Linked DNA regions of Homo sapiens. The gene in region 2 interacts genetically with the main gene of each other region. Each region holds a gene or a part of one and is shown on either strand. Other genes may lie near its edges.

Region 1 (3,500 bases), on a different chromosome or scaffold from region 2:
GATTCTCTCACTTCAGCTCCTGAGCAGTTGGGACTACAGGTGCGTGCCACCGCACCTGGCTAATTTTTTTTTGGTATCCCTTGTAGAGATGGGGGTTTCGTCATGTTGCTCAGGCTGATTTTCAACTCCTGGGCTCAAGCAATCCTCCTGCCTTGGCCTCCCAAAGTGTTAGGATTACAGGCATAAGCCACGACATCTGGCCCTGGATATCTCTTTTCACAATGTGAAGATATGAAATTAAAACTTACTCTAAAATATCTAAATTTCTCAAAAACCATACCTAAAGACCGCTATGGTCTGGACAGTCACCCTGTGACTATCAATCTTAGGCCCGTGGGCTGCTTCCATTCCAGAGCAAAAGTAATGCCAATTCATCTCTGGGCTCTTCAGCACCAGGTTCTGTTAACCAGGCCAATGATGGCATAAAGTTAATGCTCAGTAAATACCAGTTGACATGTGTTATTTATTGACTGAAGAAGGAAAATGATTACCTTTGAAGATAAGTCCTAAGATATTCAAGAGCCTGGTCTCCTCTGACTCCTCTGGGTCTATATGACTGAAGGGTTCGGACTCCTGGAAGTGGCCTGTGGCTTCTCGAGTGAGAATGATGGCCTTTCTGAAAGAACACCAGCCTGTCAGTACCCAGAAGAATGTCACTGCAGCCGTTTGTAAGGGAGCTTACCTCATGATTCTATCAAGTCCCTGGACCTACTGCCCAGAGAAAAGGAGCACTTAACATGCTTAAAAAGTTGTTACAGCACCTACTAAGGGGTAGGGCTCAAAACACTTTGCCTATTTTTTTCCCCTGACTGCTCATCTGCAAACACTTTTCCTATTTCTGAACCTACAAGGCATTACTACAGTCTTCAAAAAAACTCCAATAAGGCTTTTTAAAGTTTTAAAATCATAAACCTACTCCAAACACCTGTTTAAAAACTTTCCTAAGTTTAGAAACAATAAACTTTCAATAATTAGTTAATTCAGGCACATCCAGACAATAAGATTCTATGTAGTCATAAAAAATAATGGGGACACGTGAGCCCAGGAATTTGAGATCAGTCTGGGCAACACAGGGAGACCCAACTATACAAAAAGTAAAAAAAGTTAGCCGGGTGTGATGGTGTGTGCCTGTGGGTGTGATGGTGTATGCCTGTGGGTGTGATGGTGTGTGCCTGTGGGTGTGATGGTGTGTGCCTGTGGGTGTAATGGTGTGTGCCTGTGGTCTCAGCTACTCGAGGGAGCTGAGGTGGGAGGATCACTTGAGCCTGGGAGATCAAAGCTGCAGTGAGTTGTGATCATACCACTGTACTCCAGCATGGGCAAAAGAGTGAGACACTCTCTCTCTCAAAAAAAGAGGAGAGTGGGAAACTATTTATGTATAAATATATATGTGTATATATATATATATATTTTTTTTTTTAGAGACAGAGTCTTGTTCTGTCACCCAGGCTGAAGTGTAGTGGCATGATCTTGGCTCACTATAACCTCTGCTTCCTAGGTTTGAGTGATTCTCATGCCTCAGCTCCCCAAATAGCTAGGATTACAGGTACGTGCCACCATACCTGGCCAATTTTTGTAATTTTAGCAGAGATGGGTTTCGCCATTTCGCCACGTTGGCCAGGCTGGCCTCAAACTCCTGGCCTCAAGAGATCCACCAGCTTTGGGCTCCCAAGGTGCTGGGATTACAGGTGTGAGCCACTGCACCTGGCCATCTATAAATTTTTTTTTTTTTTTGAGATGGACTCTTCCTCTGTCACCCAGGGTAGAGTGTAGCGGAGCAATCTCAGCTCACTGCAACCTCTGCTTCCTGGGTTCAAGCAATTCTCCTGCCTCAGCCTCCCAAGTAGCTGGGATTACAGGCATGAGCCATTGCACCCAGCCATAAATATTTTTAAAAACCACTGAGACACATAGTTAAGTGAAAAAAACAAGATGGTAGATCAGTGGGCAGAGAATTCTATCAGTCATATAAAAGGGGGAAAAAAAGAATACATGTTTGACTGCTTGTCTACATGTTATCTTCTTGCCACGTTGCCCAGGCTGGCAAAGGCCAGGCCTGGTGGTGTGTACCTGTAATCCCAGCTACAAATTATAAATAAATTAACCAGGCTACTCAGGAGGCTAATGTGGGAGATCGCTTGAGCCCAGCAGGGTTGAGGCTACAGTGAGAGGCTGCAGTGAGCTGTGATTGCGCTACTGTACTCCAGCCTGGGCAACAGTGAGATTCTGTCTCAAAAACAAACAATCCTTTTCTAATTGACAGGAGAAAATACTAGAATGCTTGGTGGAACATGCACTTATAAAACTATAGTCTCTATTTTTGCTTTAGCAAAATAAAAAGAGAGACACTAAAGTAACATAAGGGAGTCATAGGGCAAACAAGCCACTCTCTAGCCTTCTAAAAACAGCCCAAGCCGGGCACGGTGGCTCAAGCCTGTAATCCCAGCACTTTGGGAGGCCGAGGCAGGCGGATCACGAGGTCAGGAGATTGAGACCATCCTGGCTAACACGGTGAAACCCCGTCTCTACTAAAAATATAAAAAAAAAAATTAGCCGGGCGTGGTGGCGGGCGCCTGTAGTCCCAGCTACTCGGGAGGCTGAGGCAGGAGAATGGCGTGAACCCAGGAGGTGGAGGTTGCAGTGAGCCAAGATCGCACCACTGCACTCCAGCCTGGGCAACAGAGCAAGACTCCGTCTCCAAAAAAAAAATTCAGCCCAATTAGGTAAGAAGTAAATAAATAACAAATAACTTGTGGCTGAGGTTTAAGAATACTTGTTGGCAGCCGAGTGCGGTGGCTCACGCCTGTAATCATGGCACTTTGGGAGGCTGAGATGGGTGGATCACCTGAGGTCAGGAGTTCAAGACCAGCCTGGCCAATATGGTGAAACCCTGTCTCTACTAAAAATAAAAAAATTAGTGCGGTGTGGTGGTGCGCGCCTGTGGTCCCAGCTACTTGGGAGGCTGAGGCACGAGAATTGCTTGAACCTGGGAGGCAGAGGTTGCAGTGAGCCAAGATCGTGTCACTGTACTGCAGCCTGGGCAACAGAGTGAGTGAGACTCCATCTCAAAAAAAAAAAAAAAAAAAAAAAAAAAAAACTTGTTGACGGCTGTAAGGGCTTTTGTTGTTAAGTTCTAGAGTCACAAAAACACTAGGAGAAATCTTTTCTCTAAGATCAGGATTCATACTAGGTTTGAAGATTAAGGTAGTATTAAGCATGTTTGATATTATTAGTTCATGAAATTTAGAATTAGAAAGTCCTTAGAGATCATAAGATCTAATCAATTTCTTATTTTATAGATAATGAAACCGAGGCACAGAAAGTTAAGCAACTTATTCAAGATCATACAACTAGAACTTATTTATAGGTGCTCTTCTTCAATTGAAGGAGGACTCATGTTTGATTATAATACTGTTAACATTTAATTGTTTCAGTAGTTTTTTTAAACATTTATAAAGTAGAAACACATGCTTAATTGTGGACTAGGCCTATGGTCAGAC
Region 2 (3,500 bases):
ATGAAAGAGGTAACATCACTACAGATTCTAACAATATTAAAAGGATAATAACAAGTTAACAGGAAGAAAAAAGAAAACAAAAGAGAAGTAAAAACAGGAGTGAAAACATTTTAATAACAAAAAAAAAAGGATAGTAAGAAAATACTATGAACAACTTTATGTCAGCCAATTCAACTACTTAGATCAGGGGTGTCCAATCTTTTGGCTTCCCTGGGCCACTTTGGAAGAAGAATTGTCTTGGGCCACTAATACTAACGACAGCTGATGAGCTGAAAAAAAAAGAAAAGGTCTGTGCATAAATCTCATGATGTTTTAAGAAAGTTTACGAATTTGTGCTGGGCCGCATTCAAAGCATCCTGGGTTGCATGCAGCTTGCAGGCCACAGGTTGGACAAGCTTGACTTAGATGAAATGGGCAAAATCTGTGAAAGATACAAACTAAAAAAGCTCATCCAAAAAATAAATAAATAAATAAATAGGTAACCTCAATAGTTCTAGATCAACTAAAGAAACTTAATTTGCAGCTTAAAGCCTTCCCACAAAACTCCAAGTCCAGATGGCCTCACTGGTAAATTCTATCAAACATTTTAGGAAGAAACAATACTAACTCTACACAAACTCTTCCAAAAAACTGAAGGAACTCAATTTGAGGTCAACATTATTCTGACATCTCAACTACACATTACAAGAATGCTACAAATATCTTTTGTGAACAGAGACACAATTCTCAAGAATTCTCAAGAAAACTTTAGCAAACTTTAGCAAACTTGAATTCAACGTATATAAAAATAATACAACATGATCAAGTGAGGTTTATCCAAGGAATGCAAGGTGGCTTTAGCATTTAAAGACCGATAATTCACCATATGACTAGACCAAAAAATGGAAACCACAGAATGAAGTAAAACTATAAAACTTCTCTAAGAAAACACAGGAGACCTTGGCTTTGACAAAGGATTCCTTAAATACAAAAAGCAGAAATATAAAGGGAAAAAATTAATCAGACTTCATTAAAATTTTTAAATGTTTGCTCCCAAGACACTGTTAAGAAGTAAAAAGACAAGCCACAGATCAAGAGAAAATATTTGCAAAAGATATATCAAACTAAGGATTTCTATCTAGAATATGTAACAAACTCTACATTTAAGTAAGACAACCGAAGATAAAAATGAGCAAAAGATCTGAACAGATGCCTCACCCTGCCCGTGATGATATACAGAAAGCAAATAAGCATCTGAAGGAAATGCAAGTTAAAACCACAATAAGGTAACAGTACACTGGACTACCTAAAACTAAAAGGGCTAACTATATCAAGTGTTGGTGAGGAAGTTGAGCAACTGGAACCCTGATATGCTGCTGATGCCAATGTAAAATGGCACAACCAGTTTGAAAAAAAAAGTCTGGCAGGTTTTTCTTTTTAAGTAATCACACACCTAATATACAATCCAACCATTTCACTCCTAATGTTTTTCCCCCAAACAAATGCAAGCATACGTCCCTACAATGACTTGTACAGAGATGTTCATAGGTTTCTTTTTCAGAAAGCCAAAAACTGGAAACAATCCCAATGTTCATCAATCATCTGAATAAATAAATAAAATGTGGTGTATCTACACACAGAATACTATCCAAAAATTAAAAGACGAGGCAGGCAGATACTTGAGGTCAGGAGTTCAAGACCAGCCTGGCCAACATGGTGAAACTCCATCTCTACTAAAAATACAAAAATTAGCCGGGTGTGGTGGCATGTGCCTGTAATCCCAGCTGCTTGGGAGGCTGAGGCAGGAGAATTGCTTGAACCCAGAAGGTGGAGGTTGCAGTGAGCCGAGATCGCACCACTGCACTCCAGCCTGGGCGACAGAGCGAGACTCCATCTCAAAAAAAAATAAAAACAAAAAAGAAATAAACTACTGACACATACAACAACGGAAGAATTTCAAAATAAGTATACTGAATGAAAGTAACTGAGGCAAAAAATGAGTATATACTATATAATCTCATTTATAAAAAATTATAGAAAATGAAAACTTATCATACGGTCAGAAAGCAAACCAGTCAGTGGTTGGCAAAAGACAGGTGGCAGGGAGGGATAGTAGAAAGGAACTACAAAAGGGCAGAAGGAATGTTTTAGAGGTCACGTTCACTGTCTTGGTTGTGCTGGTTTCACAGATGTATGCACTGTATTAAATTATATACTTTAAGCCCAGGACTTTGAGGCTGCAGTGAGCCATGATTGCACACTACATTCCAGCCTGGTGACAGAGCAAGACCTCAACTCGAAAAAAGTTAAAAGAAAATTGTACACTTTAATTACCTGCAGTTTATTCTATGTCAAGTATACCTCAACAAAGCTGCAAAAACACCAAAGGTTGGGGGAGGTTTCAAGGAAAGCCAGAGAATGAGAGAGAAAATAAAAATAAAAATACATGAGTCTAAGAGGACCAGTATCCTGAGTCTGGAAAGGGAAGAAAAAAAGGTCAAGAAATCATCAAACAGCATTCCCTAAAACCGAAGAACGTAAGACTCCAGACTCAAAGAGTGAGCCACGTACTGATCAAAATGAATCTGAATTTAAAATAACATCTATACCTGGGTACCTAATAATGAAAGTTTACACTATCAAGAAAAAGATCTTTTTAAAATCTAGGAAGGAAAACTGATCACAAAAGAATGAAAGCATATGAGCATAAAAATTAAGTCCTTCTGGTTTCCACACTAGCTCTGACATTTATCAGCTGAGTGACCTTGGGTATGATACGCGACCCTGCTGTGTTTCCATTTTCTCATCTGAAATAATAATAAACATAACAATAATCATTATTTTTCTGAGATGGAGTCTCGCTCTGTCACCAGGCTGGAGTGCAGTGGCGGGATCTCGGCTCACTGCAATGTCTGTCTCCCGGGTGCAAGTGATTCTCCTGCCTCAGCCTCCCAAGTAGCTGGGACTACAGGCGCGCCACCATGCGCAGCTAATTTTTGTATTTTTAGTAGAGATGGGGTTTCACCATGTTAGCCAGGATGGTCTGGATCTCTTGACCTCGTGATCCACCCACCTCAGCCTCCCAAAGTGCTGGGATTACAGTCGTGAGCCACCGCACCCGGCCAATAAACATAGTAATTATTATAACATAATAACAATATTGGTTGTCTCCAAATAACGTGCTTCTATTATTTGTATGTAATAAAAATAATTACAACAGTAGAAGTCATGTGGTTGTGAGGATCAAACAAGTTATAATAAAGTTCTTAAAACAATGGTAAATGCTATATAACTGCTGGTTAAATAAATACATCACATTAACACCGAACTTGTCATCAACACTACTAGATGAGAGAGTACAAAAGAACAATTTCTTTCAAAGTTCTGAGGGAACCTAATATTAAAACTGGAATTCCTGGCCAGGTGCGGTGGCTCATGCCTGTAATCCCAGCACTTTGGGAGGCAGGGGCTGGTGGATCACCTGAGGTCAGGAGTTCAAGATCAGCTTGGCCAACATGGTG
Region 3 (4,298 bases), on a different chromosome or scaffold from region 2:
TGCTACTGCTGACCACAAGGTGAGGTAACAGAGGTTAAGTGTGGAGAGAGGGGACCATGAGGCTGGGCTGGAGGAGGCTGGTCTTTGTGGCCTTAGGGACAGTAGTCACCCAGGATGACTGGCAGGAAGCAGGCTGAAGGAAGGTGACTCCAGTTTTAGTCAGAATTCCGAGTTCCACCTTGGGCTTGAACAGGGAGTGGGTGTTGCTGGTACCCCCAACACCAACCACAATCCAGTGGTTCAAGGACCTGGATATGGTGGGGGAAAGGAAGTTTGGGGGAAGGCAATTTGGAGAAGAGGTTTGAAAACCACCCATGTAAAAGTTTACTGGGGAATAAAGCATTCATAAACTCCTTTCATCTCCTCTCCAACTTGCTCTGAGTTCAGTGCAATGGTTTTTACAAATAGGAATGGGCCAGACAAATTCGGACTTGAAGTCAAAAAAAAAAGAACCCCAAAGTACAAAGATTCTCTGTGACAAACTTTATTAAATTTTGCATCAGTACAGGGCATCTCTTATTGCATACTAGAATCCCAGGATTCAGGCGGGTGGTAAAGTGGCAACGGCGAATTTGGGTATCTGGTCTCCCAAAAGTACTTGCCGCTCTACCCCTGACTCTGCAATGGCTGCCAGGCGGATCACTCCTCCACTGGAGCCATCCCGCTCCATGGCCAAAGCGAGAGCTGTGGATAAAAGAAGAAAGCTGGGTTCAGATTCAGATGCCGGGATCACTGCAAGGAATGAGGAATGCTGGCCTGGCTTGGGTAGTTGGGGTTGAAGCTCATAGGCCCAGAAGCCTAAGCTCTCACCATTGGCAGTGAATTGCAGACACTCTTCCTTGGTCATGCCTTCCCGGTAGGTAGCATCAACATAGCCATAGATGTAGGAGCTCCCGGAGCCTCCAATGGCAAAGGACTGCCTTACCATCATACCCCCCATAGGCACTGAGTACACCTGCCAGATAGAAGGAGAGGAGTCACCAGTCGTATCCTCCCTCCAACACACGTACATTCACCTGTCCATTCTGCTATTGGTCTGAGGCACGTTAATAGTAAGAATAAGTGAGGTAGAGACTGGAAAGAAAAAGAAAATGGCTGGGGAGAGGATAAAAGTCCTGGCTCAAGTGTGCTCTGGTCGGGTGGGGATCTGACCTGCCCTCCTTCTTGAGGGTCCCAGCCTGCGATGATGATTCCCGCCATCAGGTCTTCCCGGTATCGGTAACACATCTCCTTAAAGAGGCTGGCTGCTGTGTGGACCAGTGGAGGCTCATTCAGTTCAATGCTAGAGGGTCAGGGAAGTCACAGAGAAAGTTTCAAGACCTAGAAGTCAGGCTATTTAGCTCCTCAGCTTCCAACTCCCTTCAGATACTTGCCCCTCCCCTGCCCACAAGCACCTGTGGAAACCGAGCTGGTAGGTGACAGCATCAGCTACTGCCTGGGTATCAGCAGCTGAGCCTGAGCGACAGCAGAAAATGCGGTCGTGAATAGGTGTCAGCTTGTCAGTCACTCGATTGGCGATGTAGGACCTGCAGGATGGCAGAATAGTGAGGAAAGGAGCCCACCTGTCTTCCACCTCCATCCCATCACTACCCACTCTCTTAGGGCTCAGGGATAGGATGTCCAGTATTGCCTTTTTTTCCTTTTTCTTTGAGATGGAGTCTCGCTCTGTTGCCCAGGCTGGAGTACAGTGACGCGATCTCTGCTCACTGCAACATCCACCTCCTGGGTCCAAGCGATTCTCTAGCCCTAGCCTCCCAAGTAGCTGGGACTGCAGGCACGCACCGCCACGCACGGCTAATTTTTGTATTTTTTAGTAGAGACGGGGTTTCGCCATGTTGGCCAGGCTGGTCTCGAACTCCTGACCTCAGGTGATCCACCCGCCTCGGCCTCCCAAAGTACTGGGATTACAGGCGTGAGCCACCGTGCCTGGCCTCCAGTATTGCTTATTCTCATCCAAACTGAAGCGGGCTGGAGAACAGACTTTTGTAAGGATTCCACTAACGAGTGAGGGGAACTGAAAGTAACAAAAGTTGGGACAAATCTTTATCTCCAGAGAGAGAAGAAACCTCTCTTCCCACAGTGGTCTGTGGAGGCAGGCAGGGTGGGCTGGCAGGCAGGAAAGGAAAAGGAAGATGGGAAGACCTTTCACAAATCTGTCCTGAGCTCACCCAGTGGTTGTTCTGGAGTCCGCCCCCAGAACCACGCCCCCGTCAAACTGCACGGCCATGATAGTGGTCTGGGAAAAGGGAAAAAGGAGTAAGTCTACATTCTCCAGCAGACACAAACCTCAATGATCTCTCTACCTAGTTCCAAAAATACAAAATCTGTCCGTCGCTGAACCATTTTCAAATCTTATAGGGGCCTCAGCACCCCGCAGAATACCAGAATGCCAACCCTCAAATCTCAAAAGACTCATCCCGTACTTAAGCCCAAGATCCTCACTAGCCTCGCAGGATTTCAGAATTTCAAACTTCAGCCCACCCTCCACCTCCCACTACGAAGCTACCGCACCACTCCACCATCTTCGGGGTACCTCTCCCCATTCCTGGAGCACAACACATTCCACCTCCTCTCCACCCCTGCCAGATCTCTCAACCCCACTCAGGCTTTATCTTCCCATCGCGTCAGGCCTTGTGCACGTCCTATGAACCCCGATTCCTTCCTCACCCCAGTGGAAACTTCTCGGCTTTCCCAGTCTGGAGTGAACGCCTCCGGCCCCCAAGCCGGTGCTGGCCCGGCTCCCCGAGCAGCTAGTAAGGTAGCCGCCATCTTTCTCCTCCGGTACTGCCTCAAAGCAACTGTCGTAAAGCGCTCTGTCACGCTCTTTGGTCGCGCTTTGAGGCCTTCTGGGAGCGAAGCTACTCCGAGGTTGACGGCAGAAGGGAAAAGAAAAGTACAGTACTGCATGGGGACGGTTCTTTTGCGACAGTGAGCACTTGATGGCAGCGTGGCAAGCAACAAACAAAACAAGAAAGTCAGCAAAACCCCCCCCCCAAAAAACCAAAAAAAACCCAAAAACCGTTCGGCACTTTGGGAGGCTGAGGCGGGCGGATCATGAGGTTAGGAGTTCAAGACCAGCCTGGCCAACATGGTGAAACTCCTTCTCTACTAAAAAATACAAAAATTAGCCGGGCGTGGTGGGGCGCGCCTGTAATCCCGGCTACTGGGGAGGCTGAGGCAGGAGAATCGCTTGAGCCTGGGAGGCGGAGGTTACAGTGAGCCGAGATCACGCCACTGCACTCCAGCCTGAGCGACAGAGCAAGACTGTCTCAAAACAAAAGCAAAAACAAAACAAAACAAAAAACAGTCCTAGTGGCTTGCGCCGTACCGATCTTATGGAGTTACAGTCCAAAGGGCCCACAAAATAAACCTGAGAGTCTTTGGGCTAAAGTGACCACACCATGTTTTCATTTCTTTTAGTTATATACTTAGGAGTATATGCTGGCAGAGGAATTTATGGGTTCTATGATAACTGTATGTTTAACATTTTGAGCAACCGACAAACTGTTTTCCACAGAAACTGCACCATTTTACATCCCTACAAGCCATGTGTGAGGGTTCCAATTTCTCCACATCCTCACCAACACTTGTTATTGTGCATTTTTTTAGTTATAGCCATTCCAGTGGGTGTGAAGTGGTACCCTGTGGTTTTCATTGGTATTTTTCTAATGATTAGTGATGCTGAGCATATTTCCATGAGATAATTGGCCATTTGTATGTCTTTTTTGATGCAATGTTTTTTCAAGTTCTTTGCACATTCTAAAATTGGGATATGTCTTTTGTTTAATATATTTTTGGGGTTTAATTTTTTTTTTTTGAGACGAGGGTGGGGTGTGTGTGTGGGGTGGGTTTGTCTTGCGGTGTTTCCCAGGCTGGAGTGCAGATGGGATCATGGTGCACTATATCAGCCTCGAACTCCTGGGCTCCAGTGATCCTCCCGCCTCAGCTTCTCAAGTAGCTGGGACTACAGGTGTGTGCCACTGAACCCAGCTCTATTTGTCTTTTTTTTTTTTTTTTTTTTTTTTTGAGACGGAGTCTCGCTCTGTCGCCCAGGCGGGACTGCGGACTGCAGTGGCGCAATCTCGGCTCACTGCAAGCTCCGCTTCCCGGGTTCACGCCATTCTCCTGCCTCAGCCTCCCGAGTAGCTGGGACTACAGGCGCCCGCCACCGCGCCCGGCTAATTTTTTTTGTATTTTTAGTAGAGACGGGGTTTCACCTTGTTAGCCAGGATGGTCTCGATCTCCTGACCTCATGATCCACCCGCCTCGGCCTCCCAAAGTGCTGGGATTACAGGCGT
Region 4 (3,500 bases), on a different chromosome or scaffold from region 2:
GAACTGTTTAAGTATTAAGGGAATTTTTAAGAAGTAAGGGAATTTTTTCTAAATCCCAGATGGGGTTTTTTGTTTGCCAAGTTCCTTCTTATTTCTTGTAATCTTTCCTTATTGCATGTCTGTGTTGGGCTAACAATATATTAATACAGAATGTTTATGCTTTGATTTTTATATATTTAGTTGTTAACTATCGTTGTTTATCTGTTCTGACATAAGCTTATGCAAAGTAGAACCGGTTCTTATTACTTATATTCCCTTTTTCAATTATAAAAGTTTAAAGTACTATAATATATCTACAGACATGCATAAAGATAATATTATATTGGGGTATTTGATTATTGGAATTAGTTAATTGGTTATGATTGACCTTGAATGCTGATTTTTTTTTTTTTTTTTGAGACAGAGTCTCTTTCCATGTCCCGATCTCGGCTCATTGCAACCTCCACCTCCCGGGTTCAAGCGATTCTCCTGCCTCAGACTCCCGAGCAGCTGAAATCACAGGCACCCGTCACCATGCCCTGCTAATTTTTGTATTTTTAGTAGAGATGGGGTTTCACTATGTTGGCCAGGTTGGTCATGAACTCCTGACCTCAAGTGATCCGCCCGCCTCAGCCTCCCAAAGTGCTGGGATTACAGGCGTGAGCCACTGCGCCCGGCTATGATTTAATACAAGTGTTTTGAAAGCAGAAAATATTAGAGTCCTAAAAGTTAAATATGATATAATGAAAATAGTTAGAAGTTCAACAATATATAATAAAGGAAACACATATTAGCATCCAACTTACCAAGAAAAATGTCTATTGGTTGGAATCTATTTACTTTACTGATTTGCTTTAAACAGATTAGAACAGAATAAATGTATAGACATGGTTTAAGGATTAGTGAATGGCAGGTACTGGTGCTTGAAGCATTATATTATATTGAGGAAATATACACACCTCTAACTGGGAAACTTAACTGCTGTAAAGTTGATGCACTTATACAGTAACCAATTTGGGGCTCATAGGCGATGGTATCTAAACATTCATTCCAATCTTGCACATTAGTAACAGGACAATCCTGTAGATGGGTGACAAGGTCTCCCACAAAAAGGCCTCTGGGTCCAATGGCAGGAGAGTCCTTGGGAAGAGGGTAAAACCAAATCAGATAATGCATGAAGACAAGCTATAATTAATCTGAGCAAATAATAAAGACACTGAGTTAATTAAGTGAATAGTTTGAATGCAGAAAATAATCCAGCTTTGAATTCAAGACATAGTCCTAGAAAATTAAAATAAAACCCAACAATTATAGTTGCTTTTCCCAAATTCTCCAAGATTTTGAATTTTTCACAATTGAAAAAAAGCCGACTTGCTGACTGTTAAGACTAAAATGATAAAATTTTTTCCCAAACTGCCAATTAAAAATTTTTTGGTGAAAGTATCATCAGACTGTCTTGCCTTTCCTATATCCTTAACGCATAAAACAATAAGACACATCCTTTCATATCCCCAATATGCAGGCAATACCATCAGTACAATGTATATGTAAGCCAATTGCTCACAAAGGTAATTTTCCTCTTTCTAATGTCTGAATACAAGATTTGATGCCATCATAGCAGTTATTGTCTAAGGGAGTGAAATACAGAGTTGAAGACATTAACTTAAACTCCTATGAAATGTTACGGCTGGACAGCCTAGGTTTCATCTTTCTTACTACTTAGGAGGCGTAAAGACATTTGACTCAAAAGCAGAGATATAAAAATAAACAGAAAAGGTAAATGATGCATTTTACCAATAAACTACAGGTAGAAAATCTTGATACTATCTTCCTAAGTACAGCATCAGGACAAAAACAATTTTCATGAAACTTTAAAAAAACCAATGTGTTTCCCAACATTATTTGTTAGATTTGAGAGGACTACAGTAATTTCTTCAGAAGAAACTAAGCATTTTGTATATGAAGAGATCTTGAATAAAAGTTTCTGAATAGATGCTAGGTATTACATCACAACATCTGATGAAAGAATGCCCTGAGTAATCCATTATTTACCTCAGCAACTTCAGTGATGAGCACCCCAACTCCAGTGTAGTAAAATGGCAAGAGAATTACTGGGAGGAGAACAAGAGCTAAAATACCCAAGAGTGCAAGGACAAAATTATGCCAGATACCTGGAAAGAGAGGAAAAAAAGCAATAAGCTCAACCGGGGGCAGGAATGATATAAGTAGCTGGACCTCACAACACTTGGGCATTCTGATAAATTAATAAAGTGATCAGAAGAAGCAATGAGGCAAAAATATCTACTTATTAGTAGAGCAGACAGATGTTCAATTATTAGTTACTTTCATTTTAGATATTGAAATCTAAAATGGGCATGTTAATACCACACTAGGAAGACCACATGCTAACATGATTTGATACTGATAGAACTAATATCTTCCACTAATTATACTCTCTTTTCAGAAAATGTATATATCACTAATTTAAACATATTTGTGATCTTTGAAAGAAACCTCATATACATTCAAATAAAAAAAACTCTTGCTAAACAGGGGTACAGAAACTCAAATGGTACTTGGAAAAAGGAGGTTGTTTTAAGAACTAAACTATTATGCAGAACAATATTGGTGGAACAAACCGAGCATATATTTTACATCACGTCACAGACTATAAAGCAACAAACCATAAGAAAACTGTCGGCCAGGCACGGTGGCTCACGCCTGTAATCCCAGCACTTTGGGAGGCCAGGGCGGGCGGATCACGAGGTCAGGAGATCAACACCAGCTTGGCCAACATGGTGAAACCCTGTCTCTACTAAAAATACAAAAAAATTAGCCAGGCATGGTGGCGCGCGTCTGTAGTCCCAGTTGCTTGTGAGGCTGAGGCTGGAGAATTGCTTGAACCCGGGAAGCGGAGACTACAGTGAGCTGAGATCGTGCCACTGCGCTCCAGCCTGGGTGACATAGCACAGAGCAGGACTCCGTCTCAAAAAAAAAAAAAAAAAGAGAAAACCGTCTTTATTATTTTTTTTTAAACCCTAAAATTTAGGTACTCAAATTCATTAATCTTTTCCATTATATATTCAACCTTTGCAGCTGTGCAAAGGAAGACTTTCTCGCCCCTAACATTATGTAAGTAATCACTCTTTTTGTGGAGAAGGATGGTTTAAATAGTTTTATTTTTACATTTAAATCTCTTACCATTTGGAATTTATTTTTGTGTATGTGTGTGATTTTTACATTTAAATCTTTTACCATTTGGAATTTATTTTTGTGTATGGTGTGACTGATACATATAACTAATTTTATTCAAATGTTTAGCTAATAATTACTGAGCAGTGCATTCTTTCCCTACTAAATTAAATGCAACTTTTAATTTACAATACATTTTCATCTATTCTTTGGCTTGCTTCTGGAATTTCCATTCTTTTCCACTATTCCAGTGACAATAAAGCTGTTGCTGGTAGTAATATTTCAGTATTTAGTAAATAAATACTTTCAATTTGTTTATTTTGGTTATT
Region 5 (3,500 bases), on a different chromosome or scaffold from region 2:
TCCTGACCTCAAGCAATCCGCCCGCCTCAGCCTCCCAAAGTGCTGGGATTATAGGTGTGAGCCACTGTGCCTGGCCAGGAGTCCACCAATTCTTTCAACTTTAGAGCAGCCATCGAGGAGAATGCCAGCCATGGTTTACCACATCAAAGGATACCTTTCCTATCCCATGGCAGGAATAAAACTGTCTTCTTAGAAAAGATGACATAAATAATCTCAATACGCCCTCTAAAATCTTTCACTTCAACCTCCATTCAGAGAAATAACCTAACCCTCATCACAAGTTACAGAAAAAAAGAAAAATTCTCATTTGTCTCATAGAATGAACATACAAGAGTAAAAATGGCAGTGAAAAGCACAACAAATAGATATTTAAGTGATTACAGTGGAATGGGATGTGTGAAAACATAAAATGTCTATGAAATGTCACAAAATACCAAATGGATACCATTAAAAAAAATACACATTTTTTCTTGCTGCAATAACTTTCTCTATTTACTAGCTCCTATGAAATCTTGTTATTTATTAGTAAAACCTTTAAAATTAAAAGACCAGTAATCAACACCTCCAGTTCAACAAACAGTACCATTTCACCCCTGTGCCAAATCGGCAATTTTAACTCCAGTCCCCAGAGCAATCTGGTCCCCAGCCCAGCCTCTTGGGAACAGAAACAGTACCTGGTTTGGGAGGGGCTTTAGTCTGAGCTTTAACTGTCACAGGTGTTATCTTTGGCTTCTGGTTCTTTGGTGGCTCATCCTCGGAGCTTGAGTCAGAATCAGAATCAGAGCTCTTGGCCTTCTTAGGAGGAGCTTTGGCTGCCTTGGCTTGGGGCTTAACTCCCTTCTGTTAGAAAAGACACAAGGAGAGAAATCAGCAAAAGCTTCCGGGTACCCAAAGGGCATCCTAGGTTCCTTTTATTTTTAGGGGCCTAATGGAGCAGTAAGAGCAAAAGAAAGCTAAGGACAGGATACGGAAAGGGCAAAAAACAACAAAGTTCAGCCACTTGATACACTGGCCCTGTTCCTGCCTTATCCTGCCAAAGCTCCCAGGAAAACACTCTCTCTTATTCTTGGAGCCCTGAATAGTGTCCCAGAAGAACCCAAACTCCTCAAGCAGAATGGGTTTAATTTCCTCTAGATTCGGAGCCTGACCTCAACCTCACACATCCCTTCCAGACCTCATACTTTTATCAGCTCCCTGAAAATCCCCAGATTTTCTTCCTCATAATCACCTATTGTATTGCCGCCATCACCCCTTGGTTACAAGCTAGAGGCCAAGATTTTAGGTTTCTTCCTTTCTAATCCTTAAACCCCTTTTTCTTCCCAAAGCTGCAAACCTGGACAGGCTGTTTCTTTTGGTCCTCCTCATCATCATCATCACTGGACTCTTCACTGCTGCTACTCTCTGATGCTTTGGCTGCAGCCTTCCCAGGAGGCAGACCGACTCGCTTGGCAGGTACAGCTGAACAAACACACAGGTCCCAGTAAGAATCAGCCATGTGAAACAAGCAGGCTGTAAATTCTTTTCCTGGCACCACCAAGCCCACCTGCTACTCTGCCTTACCAGCCTTCTTTGCTGGAGGCCCTTGAACTTCCTCCTCCTCCTCGCTGCTGTCCTCACTGTCACTGGATGAGGCCTTCTTCTTAGCTTTCTTAGCCACTGGTCCATTTGCCTGTAACTTTCGCTCTGGGACCTTGGCAGACCTGCTGAGGTAGATTGGACCAATTTCTAGGGGACTGGAATCTTCCCAAACCAAGAAACACAGCCCAGCCTATCTTGGGGGAGAAAATAGCCAAAATGGAACAGGAAAGGCTTACTTGAGCCAGAAGCTATAGATGTCTAAGAGGGAAGAGGCATTGGCATCCTGCTGTGTCTGTAGAAGAAAAAGAGCTGGGTAAGGAAATTATTTTATCCTGGTTATGCTTTCATTAAATGTGGCCTGTTACATACATAATTACTAAATTTGGTATAAATGTTACATCTTCATAAAACTTTTGCTACGTGCATAAATCAGGAGAAAAATATTCTATTTGTGGATTTCCCAATTTCTGATGTAAAAAACGGGCTACTCCTATGTTTGCGGCACCATCTAACCATCTAACCCCCTGCCTGCCAATCTATATTGATCAAAGTCCTAAAACAAAACAAAACAAAAAATCAGCCAGTCACGGTGGCTCATGCTTGTAATCCCAGCACTTTGGGAGGCCGAGGCAGGCAGATCAAGAGGTCAGGAGTTCAAGACCAGCCTGGCCAACATGGTGAAACCCCATCTCTACTAAAACAAAAATTAGCCCAGCATGATGGCAGATGTCTGTAGTCCCAGCTACTTGGGAGGCTGAAGCAGGAGAATTGCTTGAACCTAGAAGGCTGAAGCAGGAGAATCACTTGAACCTAGGAGATCGCGCCACTGCACTCCAGCCTGAGCAACAAGAGCAAGACTCCATTTCAAAAAAAAAAAAAAATCACTTTTGACTGGGCACAGTGGCTTATGCCTGTTATCTCATGTTATCTCAGCACTTTGGGAAGCTGAGACAGGAGGATCACTGGATGCCAGGAGTTCAAGACCAGCCTAAGCAACATAGCAAGACCCCCATCTCTACCCCTCTGCCAAAAAAAAGGCTCTCTCTTTACTCTAGCAATGTACTATCTAAGAATGTAATCTTATCCATTACTTGAGGGTACAAACACTAATACAAGAAGGTTTTTCCTGCAATGTGGATTATAATACCAAATCATTAGAAATAAGCCTCCAGGCGGGATGCAGTGGCTCACGCCTATAATCCCAACACTCTGGGAGGCCAAGGCGGGCAGATCGCCTGAGGCCAGGAGTTCAAGACCAGCCTGGCCAACATGGAGAAACCCTGTCTCTTAGCCGGGTGTGGTGGCAGGCGCCTGTAATCCCAGGTACTCGGGAGGCTGAGGCAGAAGAATCGTTTGAACCCCAGAGGCGGAGGGTGCAGTAAGCTGAGATCGCGCCACTGCACTCCAGCCTGTGCGACAGACCAAGACTCTGTCTCAAAAAAAAAAAGAAAGAAACAAGACTAGTAAGTACTGTATTGAATGTAAAGAACTGCATTTAAGGGCCAGGCACGGTGGCTCAGGTCTGCTGTAATCCCAGCACTATGGGAGGTCGAGGTAGGCAGATCATGATGTCAGGAGTTTGAGACCAGCCTGGCCAACATGGTGAAACCCCATTTCTACCAGAAACACAAAAAATTAACTGGGCATGGTGGTGCACACCTGTAATCCCAGCTACTCAGGAGGCTGAGGCAGGAGAATCGCTTTAACCCAGGAGGCTGAGGTTGCAGTGAGCCAGTATCACACCATTGTACTCCAGCCTGGGCGACAGAGTAAGTCTCAAAAAAAAAAAAAAATGCATTCAGGCCGGGCGCAGGTACGCTAACACTTTGGCAGGCCAAGGCAGGAGGATCACTTAAGGACAGGAGTTCAAGACCAGCCTGGGCAAGACAGTGAGACCTCCATCTCTCTCTCTCTCTCTTTTT
Region 6 (4,034 bases), about 14 Mb from region 2:
ACATAGCAGCACTATTACTTTTTTTTTTTTTTTTGAGACGGAGTCTTGTTCTGTTGCCCAGGCTGGAGTGCAGTGGCACAATCTCGGCTCACTGCAAGTTCTACCTCCCCGGTTCACACCATTCTCCTGCCTCAACCTCCCAAGTAGCTGGGACTACAGGCACCCGCCACCACACCTGGCTAATTTTTTTGTATTTTTAGTAGACACGGGGTTTCACCGTGTTAACCAGGATGGTCTCGATCTCCCGACCTCGTGATCCGCCCGCCTCGGCCTCCCAGAGTGCTGGGATTACAGGCGTGAGCCACCATGCCCGGCCAGCAGCACTATTCCTAACAGACCAAAGTGAAAACTGCCCAAATGCACTGTCGATGGAATGGATGAATACGTTGTGATATACTTACACAAAACACACCATACAGCAACAAGAATGAACAATCTACAAATACACGCCAATCAATTTCTGAATTCCAGGTCACTCCCATCATAAAATACACAAGGACTAAGCTAAAATCTCCCTTGTTGTCAGAACTTGCTTCAAGTCCTAAGGGCATGGTTAGAGATCAGAGTATTTTAACTGAATAGGAAAATACTTTGAGGTCACTAGGCTTAAGTTTTTGTTGTTGTTGTTTTTTGTTTTTTGTTTTTTTTTGAGACACAGTTTCACTCTTATTGCCCAGGCTGAAATGCAATGGCACAATCTCAGCTCACCGCAGGGTGAGCTCCACCTCCAGGGTTCAAGCAATTCTCCCGCCTCAGCCTCCCAAGTAGCTGGGATTATAGGTATGCGCCACCACACCCGGCTAATTTCTGTATTTTTAGTAGAGACGGGGTTTCTCCATGTTGGTCAGGTTAGTCTCGAACTGCTGACCTCAGGTGATCCACCTGCCTCGACCTCCCAAGCAGGCTTAAGATTTTTAAAAATTAAAGTAAAAGTAAAAAAATAAAATAAACAGACTTCTAAAAGTGACCTCAATGAGCAGAACTAAGAAACAATGGGCAGCAGTAATGGAAGACAGATCCAGCTTAATGAAAGGACCGGCCGGGCGCAGTGGCTCACGCCTGTAATCCCAGCACTTTGGGAGGCCGAGGTGGGAGGATCACCTGAGGTCAGGAGTTCAAGACCAGCCTGGCCAACATGGTGAAACTCCATCTCTACTAAAAATACAAAAAAATTAGCCGGGTGTGGCGGGATGCGCCTGTAATCCCAGCTACTTGGGAGGCTGAGGCAGGAGAATCACTTGAAGAGAGTGTTGCAGTGAGCCAAGATCGTGCCATTGCACTCCAGCCTGGGCAACAAGAGCGAAAACTCCATCTCAAAAAAAAATAATAATAATAATAAAAAGGAAAGGACCAACGACCAGAATTAACAGTGCTGACAGGTAGGAAGGTAGGGTAGAGATGTGGTAAAGGGAATTTAAGATTCCAACGTAACTGAGCAGGAAGACCGCATATCTTAGCTAATCTTTACAGAGACAGAAATGGATGCTTAGAAAGAGAAAGCACCTTGCCCAGTCAGTGGCAGGGAGAGATGAGATACAAATCCTCGGCTGGGTATAGTGGCTCTCGCCTATAATCCCAACACTTTAAGAGACCAAGGTAAGAAGATCACTTGAGCCCAGGAGATCAAGGCCAGGCTGGGCAACACAGGGAGGCCGCGTCTCTACCAAAAATGTAAAAATTAGCCAGGTGTGGTGGCACGTGCCTGTGGCCCTAGCTACCTGGTAGGCTGAGGTGGGAGGATCACTTGAGCCTAAGAAGTTGAGGATGCAGACAGCTGTGATCTTGCCACTGCACTCCAGCCTGGGCGAAAGAGCAAAAATCTGGCCTCAAAAAAAAAAAAAAAAGAGAAAAATCCTTCTCCAACACTAGGAACTAGGTGTGGAACTTACTGAGTCACTTAGGTCAAGTCTCAACTTCCTCATCAGTCAAGTTAGGCCAGTAACTCCTACCTTCTAGTGTCTTTGTGACGAAGGAATGAGAACAGGAGTGAAAGCACTTTACATTATTTGTTATTACTATTATCCAGCAGCCTTTGCTAGAGGGTTGCCCCGATCTCCTGACGCTTGGCCTGAGAGATTCTATAGTGCCCAGAGATAACAGATGATACCCTGGGAATCCCTAGGTCACTCCGGGTTCCCTCCGGGGGTGTAATTAATGGTGCTTGGAGACCACTCCCTCCCTCGGCGTCCTCCACCTGCCTTACCCACACACATGCGCCCGATGATGCGGCAGCCGGCGATAGACGCGTGCACCACGGGGATGGTATCGGAGAGCTCGCCCTCGAACACACTGTAGGGACATGGACTCGGTGGTGGCGGGGCAGAGGGGCCGGCACCCTCCCACTGCCGGAGCTCTTGACTCCTGCGCACGCCTCCCCGCCACCGTAAGCCCCGGGGCTCCCGCCGCACCTGTAGAAGTTCTCTGAGCCTCCGATCGCTACCAGACAGTAGGTGTTGGTGAGCTTGGCAAAGCAGCCGATCTCACAGTTGTTCTCGAACGAAGCTCGGACCGCCATGAGGCCTAGGGGCGGCGGAGGCGGGAGTTCAAGGCCGGCGGATCCTTTCCCAAGTATCCCGGCCTCCGTCCCTCAGGCCCCGCCGCGACCCCGCCCCTCTCGGCCTCCCGGCCCCTCCGTCCTCGGGTCCCGCCCACTGGGCCCCCACCAGAACCTCCGGCCCTGAATCCTCTGGCCCCCACCCCTCCCGACCCAGGACCGGAGCTGACCCTCCCAGGTTCCCCTCACACCAGCTTACCAAGTAACCAGTAACAAGCTCCGCACGCGGCGACTGTACCTTGGACTCCCTAAAAAGGTTTCCGTTTCCACTTCCGTCCAGGGAGACTTCCGGGAGAGCCCGGCGCTCCCCGCCACGCATCCAGCCCCTCTACCTCCGGCCTCCGGCGGACTCTATGGTCGCGAGCGGTCTGGGCGCGACCCCGCCTGGCCCCACGCCTAGCCTGCTCGCGTTCATTCATTCATTATTCATTCAGGAGCTTTTTAGGAGCTGTCATCGACCTAGACCTCCGGCTGGTCGGTTGTGAGGCATGAGGGAGAGGAGGGGCCAGGAGTGTCTCGCGGAAGGGTTGATGATGGAGGTATTGATGGAAATGAAGCCGGAGGAAGGGCAGGTTTGGGGAAAGGGATGAGTCCAGCTGTGCCTTGAGGGACAGAAGTCCATGTCTGGAGCCCAGCAGGGGAGTGGAGTGCTGACGAATGAGATGAGGGGCTGAAGACGGGTGGACTAGAAGAGGCTACCCATGGAGAGAGTTCCAGGAGGCAGAAGTGCGGCCAGACCGAGGCTGGAGAAAGAGCGCAGCCAGAGACGGAAAGGCAGCCAGGCTGCAGGTGCTGGAGAGAGGGGAGGACTGAGGAAGCAGGGGCTCAGGAAAAGGCTGGAAAGGGGTCCAGGGTGGGCAAGGATGTGGGTGCTGGTTGGCTTCCACGATGTGCCTCTCGCACGGCCTCTATCACTCACTCAGCAGCCAACTTCTGTCCCCAGGATAGTGATGGGGGCCAAGGGCCCTGCTGCACACTTGGACAGGATGAACTTGGCCCACATTTTGTAGAATCTGCAAAAGCCCCGGGTTCTCTCAAAATGTCACAGTGGTAACTTGGAGCCCCTGGACTCCCCCAATTCCTCCTTCGGCATTCACCCTCCTCCAGGGGTTTCCCCATAATTGGCCTGAATGGTGCCCTTCCCATTCCCCCAACGTGTCCCTCCCATAACTCCTCAAAGTTCAGGATACACCAGGCGCTGTGATTCACAATAAAGTCTGCCTTTATTGATGTGTATCATGTTTACTATCCCGGGTAAGTGGTGAGTTCAGGAAAATGGCCCACAACCTGTCACAGCCTGTACTTCAAGAGACACTCAGCAAGATGATGACGACGACAATGATGATGATGATGATGATGACTCAGCAAGATGATGACGACGACAATGATGATGATGATAATGATGATGTGTGTGTGTGTGTGTTTCCGGGTATCCACATACTCTGCTCTTCCTCACTCATTCACCTCAGACCCACTCAGT
Region 7 (3,500 bases), on a different chromosome or scaffold from region 2:
GTTTTATTTTGTCTACAGGTTGCTGTGACATGGTGACCAGCAAAGCTCTGCAGGGTCCTTGCTGATTTTTCAAATGCTTGTCAGCTCTGAACCTGCCCTGAGCTCTGAGCCAGTGCTCTGTGGCCGATTTGGTGGCCACTGCACTGGGTGGCTTTTTAAATTGCAGTTTAATTCAGCAAAATGAAAATTTCAACTCCTCAGTCACATGAGCCACATACTGAAAGTTCATTAGCAGTGCATGACTGGTGGCCCGGTTTGGACAGTGCAGACAGAACATGCCTGTCATCATAAAGAGCTCTGCGGGCATTGCAGGCGGTGGGGCAGGACTTGGGAGGGTGAGGGGAGGTGGTGGCTGTCCTCCAAATGCCAGCCCTCACGCTGTCCTAGTACCCCAGTCCTTGGCCTGGTGGTGCAAAGGGAGAGGTACCAGGCTCCTATTCGATGCAGTTTTATCGTGTGAGGTTTCTTCTATGGTTATTTCCTACCCAAAATCAGTCTTGTTAAAACACACAGATCCCACGTGTACACAGAGGAAATGAGGTGATTCTGAAAGTTCTCACTTGTTCCAGGTGACGAGAGCAGACGTGGATGTCCAGCCCTATGCGTTCACAACCAAGTCTCTGTTTGTTGGGCACATGGATTATAAGTATCTACGTTGGCAGGTGAGAGTCTTGTCTTTATTTTTATTCATTTATTTATTTTGAGTTGGAGTTTCACTCTTGTTGCCCAGGCTGGAGTGCAGTGGCATGATCTCAGTCCACTGCAACCTTCACCTCCCAGGTTCAAGTGATTCTCCTGCCTCAGCCTTTCGAGTAGCAGGGATTACAGGTGCACACCACCACGACCGGCCAATTTTTGTGTTTTTTTAGTAGAGAGGGGGTTTCACCATGTTGGCCAGGCTGGTCTTGAACTCCTGACTTCAGGTGATCTGCCCGCCTTGGCCTCCCAAAGTGCTAGGATTACAGGTGTGAGTCACACTGCACCTGGCAAGAGTCTTGTCTTTAAACAGAACAAATATCTTGGTTTATCAAGAACTTGAAATTTCTCCATCATCATAAAGAAAACTCATCTGAGCTCTTGGGATGCATAAGAACAGGTCGCATGTCTCTGATATAATTCAGGGGAGGCAGCCAGCTGCCAGTGTGGATTTCTGCATTTTCTTAACATAAAATGAAATTATCTTTGTGTCATTTCTAACTCTGTTATCAGAAATGGCATATATACAGTTTAAAAGCGTGAAGCAGGCTGGGCACAGTGATTCACGCCTGTAATCCCAACACTTTGGGAGGCCAAGGCAGGCAGCTAACCTGAGGTCAGAAGTTCGAGATTGGCCTGGCCAACATGGCGAAACCCCATCTCTACTAAAAATACAAAAATTAGCTGGACGTGGTGGTGGGTGCCTGTAATCCCAGCTACTTGGAAGGCTGAGGCTGGAGAATCGCTTGAACCCAGAAGACAGGGGTTGCAGTGAGCCGAGATTGTGCCATTGCACTCCAGCCTGGGCGACAGGAGCGAAACTCTGTCTCAAAAAAAATAAATAAATACAAAGCAAGAAGCAATGTTTCCACACTCTAATTTTGTAAATTGTGAAGAAAGTAATTCCTAAGACATGGGAGGGTTCTCAGTTATCCCAGTTTTTGTGTTTTATGATGTCGCTGGTAAAAAGAGGAGTCATTTCTCTCAACATCATGGCTAGCATTTCTTTGAGCTCTACAGGGTTCCTCCTCCCTTTTTTGATGTTTAAATAGTATGTACTTTTCTGTCACTGGTTTATTTTGTGGTATTCAGTTTGGGAGACCTACTTTTTTTTTTTTTTTTTTTTTTTTGAGATGGAGTCTCTGTCACCCAGGCTGGAGTGCAGTGTCGCTATCTTGGCTCACTGCAAGCTCCGCCTCCCTGGTTCACGCCATTCTCCTACCTCAGCCTCCCGAGTAGCTGGGACTACAGGTGCCCGCCACCACGCCCAGCTAATTTTTTGTACTTTTAGTAGAGATGGGGTTTTGCCGTGTGAGCCAGGATGGTCTCGATCTCCTGACCTCGTGATCCACCCGCCTCGGCCTCCCAGAGTGCTGGGATTACAGGTGTGAGCCACCGCACCCAGCCCTACTTTTTTTTTTTTTTAACTACAATTCTGCTGTAAGATTATTAGGTCTGGTTGGGTGTGTGTGAGTGACTTCTGGGATGTGCTGGACAAGAAGCTTGTGGGTGAGTGTGCTTTCAGTGACAAGGTCTGGCTGTGTTAGGTTGTAGACACTCCTGGGATCCTGGACCACCCTCTGGAGGATAGGAACACCATCGAGATGCAGGCCATCACTGCCCTGGCCCACCTCCGTGCTGCGGTCCTGTATGTGATGGATTTGTCTGAGCAGTGTGGGCATGGGCTGAGGGAGCAGCTAGAACTCTTCCAGAACATCAGACCTCTCTTCATCAACAAGGTGTGTGTGGTCACTCATGTTTTGCTTCATATCCTGCAGTACGAGAATAATGATTTCATTATTTTTCTTCCTTGCCTAGCCTCTCATAGTTGTAGCCAACAAATGTGATGTGAAGAGAATAGCTGAACTTTCTGAAGATGATCAGGTAAATCACGTTAATATTTTGAATATTTCTTACTTACCAATTCTGAATTCTCATCTCAGACAACCAAAGTTTAGATGAAGGAATTTTAGCAATACTAGTCCACAATTGTATTTTATAGTTGAGATAATATCCTCAGTGGTTTAGTGAAAAGACATAATAAAAACTTAGTTATTGGCAAACTAAAACGAAAACATAAGTTTCTGGATTCTTTGTTCTTGAGTGTGTGGAAGCATCTGTATTTGATGGGTTGGACTTTTGGAAAATGTGATTACTTAGGAGAGAACTGTTGGAGAAGGGTGCTCACAGGTGTTACTTCATAAAACAGGTTCTGTGATTAAATGAGTTTGGAGACTAATGATTGAGTGAAGGAGAAGGAGGATCTTGGAATTTGGGCTTTCTGGATCTGGATCTATGAGTGAGACGTGCCTGCTAGCTTTCTCCAAGAGGCAGGCAGTATTGTTGGACATAATTTTTCAAACTGATTGAATCCTACAACCTTTTTAATAGGCATCCTTCATGATAAATGCTTTTAGAAGCGTGCACTGGTGGAGTGGCTTTCAAATTGTGGTCCTGGCCCAGCAATGTCAGCATCACCTTCTTAATTTCTTCCTTAATTTCCTCATTGATCCATTGGTCATTCTGGGACATGTTTATAATTCTCATGGGTGGTTTTTTTTTTTTTTTTTACAGTTTTGAAAGTATCTCTTGGTATTGATTTCTAGTTTTATTCCACTGTGGTCTGAAAAGATACTTGGCAATTTTTAAAAATTGATGAGATTTGTTTTGTGGCCTAACATATGGTCTATCCTGGAGAATGTTTCATGGACTGAGGAGAGGAATGTGTTTTATGCAGCGGTTGGATGACATGTTCTGTAGATGTTTGGTCTACAGTGCACTTTTTTTTTTATTTTATTTTTGTT

What was found.
Region 1: changes in XRN2 (region 2) and NCAPD2 together harm fitness less than expected from each alone (positive genetic interaction), as found in Homo sapiens cells (one large-scale study listed by BioGRID).
Region 3: changes in XRN2 (region 2) and PSMB6 together harm fitness less than expected from each alone (positive genetic interaction), as found in Homo sapiens cells (one large-scale study listed by BioGRID).
Region 4: changes in XRN2 (region 2) and MBTPS2 together harm fitness less than expected from each alone (positive genetic interaction), as found in Homo sapiens cells (one large-scale study listed by BioGRID).
Region 5: changes in XRN2 (region 2) and NOLC1 together harm fitness more than expected from each alone (negative genetic interaction), as found in Homo sapiens cells (one large-scale study listed by BioGRID).
Region 6: changes in XRN2 (region 2) and EIF6 together harm fitness more than expected from each alone (negative genetic interaction), as found in Homo sapiens cells (one large-scale study listed by BioGRID).
Region 7: changes in XRN2 (region 2) and GTPBP4 together harm fitness more than expected from each alone (negative genetic interaction), as found in Homo sapiens cells (one large-scale study listed by BioGRID).

Annotation. Positions count from the first base shown.
Region 1 is NC_000012.12:6,518,102-6,521,601, reverse strand, and holds part of NCAPD2 (condensin complex subunit 1), read right to left. Parts: intron 617-3,500; coding exon 492-616; intron 1-491. UniProt on the Homo sapiens protein: Regulatory subunit of the condensin complex, a complex required for conversion of interphase chromatin into mitotic-like condense chromosomes.
Region 2 is NC_000020.11:21,306,331-21,309,830, reverse strand, and holds part of XRN2 (5'-3' exoribonuclease 2), read right to left. Parts: intron 1-3,500. UniProt on the Homo sapiens protein: Possesses 5'->3' exoribonuclease activity. May promote the termination of transcription by RNA polymerase II.
Region 3 is NC_000017.11:4,794,666-4,798,963, reverse strand, and holds PSMB6 (proteasome subunit beta type-6), read right to left. Parts: upstream 2,801-4,298; 5' UTR 2,770-2,800; coding exon 2,668-2,769; intron 2,237-2,667; coding exon 2,169-2,236; intron 1,527-2,168; coding exon 1,395-1,526; intron 1,283-1,394; coding exon 1,153-1,282; intron 956-1,152; coding exon 811-955; intron 705-810; coding exon of another isoform or gene 685-704; coding exon 542-684; 3' UTR 469-541; downstream 1-468. UniProt on the Homo sapiens protein: Component of the 20S core proteasome complex involved in the proteolytic degradation of most intracellular proteins. This complex plays numerous essential roles within the cell by associating with different regulatory particles.
Region 4 is NC_000023.11:21,867,117-21,870,616, reverse strand, and holds part of MBTPS2 (membrane-bound transcription factor site-2 protease), read right to left. Parts: intron 2,151-3,500; coding exon 2,032-2,150; intron 1,120-2,031; coding exon 939-1,119; intron 1-938. UniProt on the Homo sapiens protein: Zinc metalloprotease that mediates intramembrane proteolysis of proteins such as ATF6, ATF6B, SREBF1/SREBP1 and SREBF2/SREBP2.
Region 5 is NC_000010.11:102,155,389-102,158,888, reverse strand, and holds part of NOLC1 (nucleolar and coiled-body phosphoprotein 1), read right to left. Parts: intron 1,871-3,500; coding exon 1,815-1,870; intron 1,704-1,814; coding exon of another isoform or gene 1,701-1,703; coding exon 1,561-1,700; intron 1,459-1,560; coding exon 1,334-1,458; intron 841-1,333; coding exon 675-840; intron 1-674. UniProt on the Homo sapiens protein: Nucleolar protein that acts as a regulator of RNA polymerase I by connecting RNA polymerase I with enzymes responsible for ribosomal processing and modification.
Region 6 is NC_000020.11:35,281,973-35,286,006, forward strand, and holds the start of EIF6 (eukaryotic translation initiation factor 6), read right to left. Parts: upstream 2,801-4,034; 5' UTR 2,754-2,800; intron 2,746-2,753; exon of another isoform or gene 2,521-2,745; 5' UTR 2,516-2,520; coding exon 2,409-2,515; coding exon of another isoform or gene 2,290-2,408; coding exon 2,204-2,289; intron 1-2,203. UniProt on the Homo sapiens protein: Binds to the 60S ribosomal subunit and prevents its association with the 40S ribosomal subunit to form the 80S initiation complex in the cytoplasm. Behaves as a stimulatory translation initiation factor downstream insulin/growth factors.
Region 7 is NC_000010.11:998,434-1,001,933, forward strand, and holds part of GTPBP4 (GTP-binding protein 4), read left to right. Parts: intron 1-569; coding exon 570-662; intron 663-2,243; coding exon 2,244-2,435; intron 2,436-2,514; coding exon 2,515-2,580; intron 2,581-3,500. UniProt on the Homo sapiens protein: Involved in the biogenesis of the 60S ribosomal subunit. Acts as a TP53 repressor, preventing TP53 stabilization and cell cycle arrest.